Regions from separate parts of the Homo sapiens genome. Here region 2 is linked to region 1. Evidence: fine-mapped expression QTL. A gene starts in region 1. The other region holds a variant in brackets. All regions are shown on one strand. Distances are between the middles of the regions.

Region 1 (2,881 bases):
AGTCATTATCTATAGCAAATTCATATAAAAATTCATTTATGCAGTTAAGTACATCCCCAAAATCATGATTTTGTTTGTACTTCACACTCACCAGCTTTTTGAAAGGAAATATATCATACATTATTCTACAATATTCCATGGAAGATTCTACTGAGCAAGTCCACAATGATTTAGATATGGGGGCCAAAGGAATGATTCCTTGGGTTCTATTCTTCACCAGCATATCAAACTCGACATGCTGCCTGCAAGATTCTGCCATATAAGGGCAGTGATCCACAACAAACACTGTTTTATGAGATTCAGAAAAAATCTTCATTTTGTTTTAACCTGTAAGGGGAAAAACATATTAGCCAAATATTTGTACATAACATCTTACATTTTTTCTAATTTTCTCAAGAAGATTGTCTTTCCCTCAAGAAGACTTGGTAGGGAACATGAATAATATGTTCAAAGAAATCTGTCCGACAAAGGACAGTTTAATGAGGTCATGACCAGAAAGCAAGGGTATCAATACACCATATTAGGCTGTCACTCTACCAGGCCCAGACAAAAATACCAGTGCATGCATTTTTGGTTTTGCTTTTAAAATGAACTTAAAATTGTCAGAGGGAAACATTTTGACATTTAATTGTATTTGATTCCCTTACATATACGAAACATAAGTGACAAAGACTCTTGAAATACAACTTTATGATCCTTGCTAATTGACATTAGTCACATATAAACCCCAAGCCAGCATTTTTGCACTTCCCTCCAAGAAAAACGTTTGAAGGGGGACTGGCGGGTAGGGGTGCGGAATTAACAGGAAAGAGGAGTGACAGCAAAAGAAAAGGCCAAAACAAAGATAAACATCTCCTAAGATAACCGCACATCAGGTCTTCGCCTTAGGATAAGGACCCCAACTTCACACTCTCCCCTTAGCTTTTGAAACATCACAGTAATTTACCAGGTAGAGCAGAAAAACTTAGTTGTTACCATCACACTGGTGTGTAGAAGGAAATTTAAAACTTTTAAAACTTTTTCTTATTAAAACAGAGCATACGGTACTCCCCTGCTTCGCTAACAAAATCTTATACTGAATAGACAATCCACATTCGAAAAGCACATGGCAAGCAAAGCCAAAGTGTTAAATCAAAACGAACTGATTTCTTACGATCCAGCTATTTTCACCTCTTGCTTTCAAGACGCATCTCCCCTTCATGCAAAACTCTCTTTGAGAAACCTTCTAGACCCACTTTGCTGGAGGGTGGGGGGTGGAAAATACAAGGTGAGTGGATAGGGAAGACCTCAGGATCGAGGTTCGCTTACTTTCGTGCCTGGTCCTGCAGTGAAAACGAACAGAGGCTATGGACCACAGCCTCTCTGGAAAAGGCTGCTGGCTGGGCGGGGAGAGTCAGCGCACAGTCGGGAGTGTCTGGTGCCACAGACAGGGGACTATGCTTTCCCCGATCATCTCCTAGCACACCGGTCCTTCCCAGGCTTCCTAAGAGCAGGAGCGCGCGTGCGCGTGCACACACACACACGCACTCGGGCTCGCGCGTGCGCACAGCGCTCTCCGATAGCCCGGCCAAGCCTCCCTTCCCCCTCGTAGGGCCAGGCGTCCCAGTCGCCGAACAGGAAGAGGGCGGGGCCAAGGAGGAAAAAAAAAGCCTCCACCCCTCGAGATTTTCCACCCGCTAATTTTCCCAGTCACCCATTGGGAAGCAGGATCTGGGCGACCTGAAAGCCTCCCCAACAGCGAAGTACCAACCACGGCCCCCTAAGCGTACGACCCACCCACCCGGTCTCCCCTTCTCTGTCTCTCCACCCAGGCCGGTTTCCCCTGGAAAAACTCGCGAGACTTTGCGAGAGGCCGAGCGAAAGCCTGGGAAGGGAGGAATAGGGAGGGACATAGAAGGGCCCCGCCCTGCCTTCTGGGGCAAAGCGGAGAGTGGTCGGTTCTGCCCCACAGTAACGCGAGGAAAGAAATCTCGCGAGGCTGGAGTTCTCCGGGAGCGCCGGTCGGAGGCGGTCGGCGGAGGTGTCTACCCCGCCGGTGATGGCGTTGAACGCCACTGGCTTCCCGGCCTTCCGTCCGCTGCCTCCGTCCGATTCTGCGTCTGCTTGCTGAGGAGGCGGATTAGGGGGGCGCGGAGTCTCTTCCCTTGAGTGCATAGGTCCCGGTTGGTAGAGGGTTTGAGTCCGCATCGCCACAGCTGAAGGCTGCGAGGGACTAAGAGCAGAGTAAGTGGACTAAATCCAGGGACGGGAGCAGGGGTGGGCGAGTCGGAGGCGTCCTTTGCCGGGGCAGTCCTTCGCCGGGGCCGGTGCCTTGCGCCTCTTGAACCACCGGCGCCCGGCCCTGTCCGCTTCCCGCCGCGGGCTCCCTGCTCCTGGGAGCCGGACTTCCTCTCCGCGCCCCCCGACTCCGAGCTCCTCTTAATGGAGATGCGGTGCGGAAAGTTCAATGAAAAGCCTTGGCTCTAACCCTGTGGACACACCTTCCGTATCTGCTTTCATCCTGCCTTACCCACCTGCGAGTTCACCACCGGACGGGGGACCCTTTCAGTCACCTGTTTGCAGCGTTTAATGAAGATAACTTGTTTCTTGAAACTGCTCTCCAAGGGGTATTACTCTTTTCTGGTTCTCTTCCTGCCTTTCTTCTCTATCCCATCTCTGATAATGGTTCCAGTATCTGTCCTGCTATCCGAACTAGAAAACCAGGAATCATCATTGGTTCTTCATTTCCACTTAACACTGCACTGTATTATTTTTTTTTTCGCCAGAATTAGTGCGGTTGCCCCCTCTGCCCCCCGCCCTCCACTGGTTTCCCTACTATAATCCTTCCATAGAGTTATTCTGAAATACATATTTATCTCTGTCCTTTCCTTAAACTTTTTAG
Region 2 (2,906 bases), 53 kb before region 1:
TCCTTATCTTCCAGCATGAAGACCATGGAGAATAAGTGATGACAGTAGGAGAGACGGGGGCAGGGTGGAGTAGGGGGAGAGTTCAAGCAAGAGATTAGGATGAAGCAATAGATTGGGAAAGCCAAGGTACAGAGAGAAGGCAAAAGCCAAGCACCAACCTCCTGGGAATGTTTAGAGAGAGGATGGGATGGAAGAAAATCCAGCAAAGATAAGGAAGTGTTGTTCGGGAATATATACAGCAAACATAAAATATCACCCTATAATTTACAAACTCTCCCATATATGCAGCATTGGGTAAGACAGGCATTGTTTCTCCCATTTTGCACACTTCAGAGATATGATGATGATGATGATGATGATGATGATGATGATGATGATGATATAAAAGTAAGACAAAAATCAAGCTGGTCACAGAAACTAGGAGTCAAGAAATGGTAAGAATAAGGGTTAATCTGTCTGGGTCCAATCAGGAGACAGAAACCACTCAGTAATTTGAACAGAAGAAGTTGAATATAAATTGCTAAACTAGGACAGAGGAGTAACTAAAAAAGATGGAAAGAGGACTGGTGGCTGGGCATAGTGGCTCACACCTATAATCCCAGCGTTTTGGGAGGCCAAGGTGGGAGAATCACTTGAGCCCAGGAGTTCAAGACCAGTCTGGGCAACATGGCAAGACCCTGTCTCTACAAAAATTAAAAAATTAGCCAAGTGTGGTGGCTGTGGTCCCAGCTACTCAAGAGGCTGTGGTCGGAGGATCTCTTGGGCCTGGGATCTCCTGGGCCAGCTACTCAGGAGGCTGAGGTGGGAGGATCTCTTGGGCCTGGGATGTGGAGGTTCCAGTGAGCCATGATCACAGTCACTGCATTCAACCCTGGGTGACAGAGTGAGACCCGGTGAAAGAGAAGAAAGGAAGAAAGAAAGAGAGAAAGAAAGAAGAAAGAAAGAAAGAAAGAAAGAAAGAAAGAAAGAAAGAAAGAAAGAAGGAAGGAAGGAAAGAAAGAACGAGAGAGGGAAGGAAGGGGAAAGAGAAAGAGAAAAAGGGAAAGGGAGAAAGAAAGAAAGAGAGAGAGAGAGAAAGAGAGAAAGAAAGGAAGGAAAGAAACTGGAAAGCGTGTCTTAGGGGTAATAGAGAGTACCCAAGGAGGCCGGGCTCAGTGGCTCACGCCTGTAATCCCAGCACTTTGGGAGGCCAAGGCGGGCGGATCACGAGGTCAGGACATCGAGAGTATCCTGGCTAACATGGTGAAACCCCGTCTCTGCTAAAAATACAAAAAATTAGCCGGGCGTGGTGGCGGGCGCCTGTAGTCCCAGCTACTCGGGAGGCTGAGCCAGGAGAATGGCGTGAACCTGGGAGGCGGAGCTTGCAGTGAGCCGAGATGGCGCCACTGCACTCTAGCCTGGGAGACAGAGCAAGACTCCGTCTCAAAAAAAAAAAAGAAAGAAAAAAAGAGAGAAAGAGAGTACCCAAGGAAAGGAAAACCTGGAGGTAAGTCCACCCACACGGGTGAGGTTTAGACTTCATTAGAGAAAGTATGGATGCAGCCCACTTTATGCAGAGAAGTCAGCTGGGCTGCCTGCGCCAGA[G/A]CTGGTCCACAGCCACCAGGCAGCAGGAAACAGCCCTCCAGGGCACAGATGAGCCAAGGCCGGTGGGCAGGTGCACAGAGAGAGTTGGGGTGTCACTGCCAACGTGAGGTCTGGAACATGCCAGTGTCCTTGTCAGGAGCGTCATGATGAAGTGGTTCACTAGGCCTGGGCTGGGCTGCATACAAATCACCAAGGGAGCGGAGTGGCTGCAGCGGAGTGCCACTGGATATACCGGTTCACACAACGTGGGCTGAAACCAAGAGCGCCTCTTTCCTCCCGCAGTGTCTCTTTATCGCCCTCTGCTGGCAAGTCTGAAAATTGTGCTCACTACGAGGGACAAATGCTTTTAGCCTATTGATAGAGGATACAGGAGCTAAGAGGAAATAAATTGACAATTGAAACAAGTGGTTATTCGACATTTTCAAGGGTACCTGTGTATCGCTGAGCTTTTTCAGAGCAAGTAACAGAAATCAGCGAAGCTGGACTTGGTGGACTGAGAGAGGGCTAGGAAAGAGTGGACAGAGGAAATAAAGAGAGGTACTGACAGTAGTGATAGTCATCATTGTAGTAATAGTAGTAGTGATGGTGTAGGTTAACATGGCAACATCAGAGCAACCAGAGAGAAAGTGAGAGATTTTGTGCCCCAGCGTCTCCATATAAAATCACAGAAAACAGTAAAAGACTCTGGTGAGCTGAGCCCAGGTCTCCTACTCAAATGGGTCTTTTCCCCTAGCAAGAGATGCTGAGTATTATGATTGAGCAGGCCTGAATCATTTGCTTACTCCTTTGACCAAAGAGATGGGTGACTGATTGGCAGCTATCAGCTCATCATGAGGTAGGAGAGGGAAATTTTCCCAAAGAAAGGCTGTTACTACTGAAAAGGGAACATAGATGAAAAGGTTCTAGGCCAGGTGTGGTGGCTCACACCTGTAATCCCAGCACTTTGGGAGGCCAAGGCAGGTGGATCACCTGAGGTCAGGAGTCCAAGACCAGCCTGACCAATATGGTGAAATGCCATCTCTACTAAAAATACAAAAATTAGCTGGGCGTGGTGGCGTGTGCCTGTAGTCCCAGCTACTCGGGAGGCTAAGACAGGAGAATTGCTTGAACCTGGGAGGCGGTGGTTGCAGTGAGCCGAGATCACACCACTGCACTCCAGCCTGGGCAACAAAGTGAGACTCCATCTCAAAAAAAAAAAAAAAAAAGCTTCTGAAAGGCAGAAACCTCTAATGTCTATCACAGGGTCACAGAGGAAAAATGGGAATAAGGCCAATGCTGAGAAGGCTTTTGTTTGTTGTTGTTTGTTTTACATTTTCAATGTA

Evidence for each region.
Region 2: its variant is fine-mapped to the expression of INTS13 in esophagus mucosa (GTEx, PIP 0.98).

Annotation. Positions count from the first base shown.
Region 1 is chr12:26,936,488-26,939,368 of GRCh38, forward strand. INTS13 (integrator complex subunit 13) reads right to left here and starts at 1,494. Exons shown (of 17, transcript NM_018164.3): 1 at 1,309-1,494; 2 at 92-327. The coding sequence starts at 316. FGFR1OP2 (FGFR1 oncogene partner 2) reads left to right here and starts at 1,983. Exons shown (of 7, transcript NM_015633.3): 1 at 1,983-2,223. RefSeq lists enhancers at 1,799-2,308, 2,037-2,086, 2,309-2,817 and a silencer at 2,347-2,416.
Region 2 is chr12:26,883,255-26,886,160 of GRCh38, forward strand. No RefSeq gene overlaps it. Among named protein-coding and RNA genes, the nearest start is that of ITPR2, 52 kb to the left of the region's middle. RefSeq lists a silencer at 1,762-1,936. The variant G/A (reference allele first, on the strand shown) is at 1,585.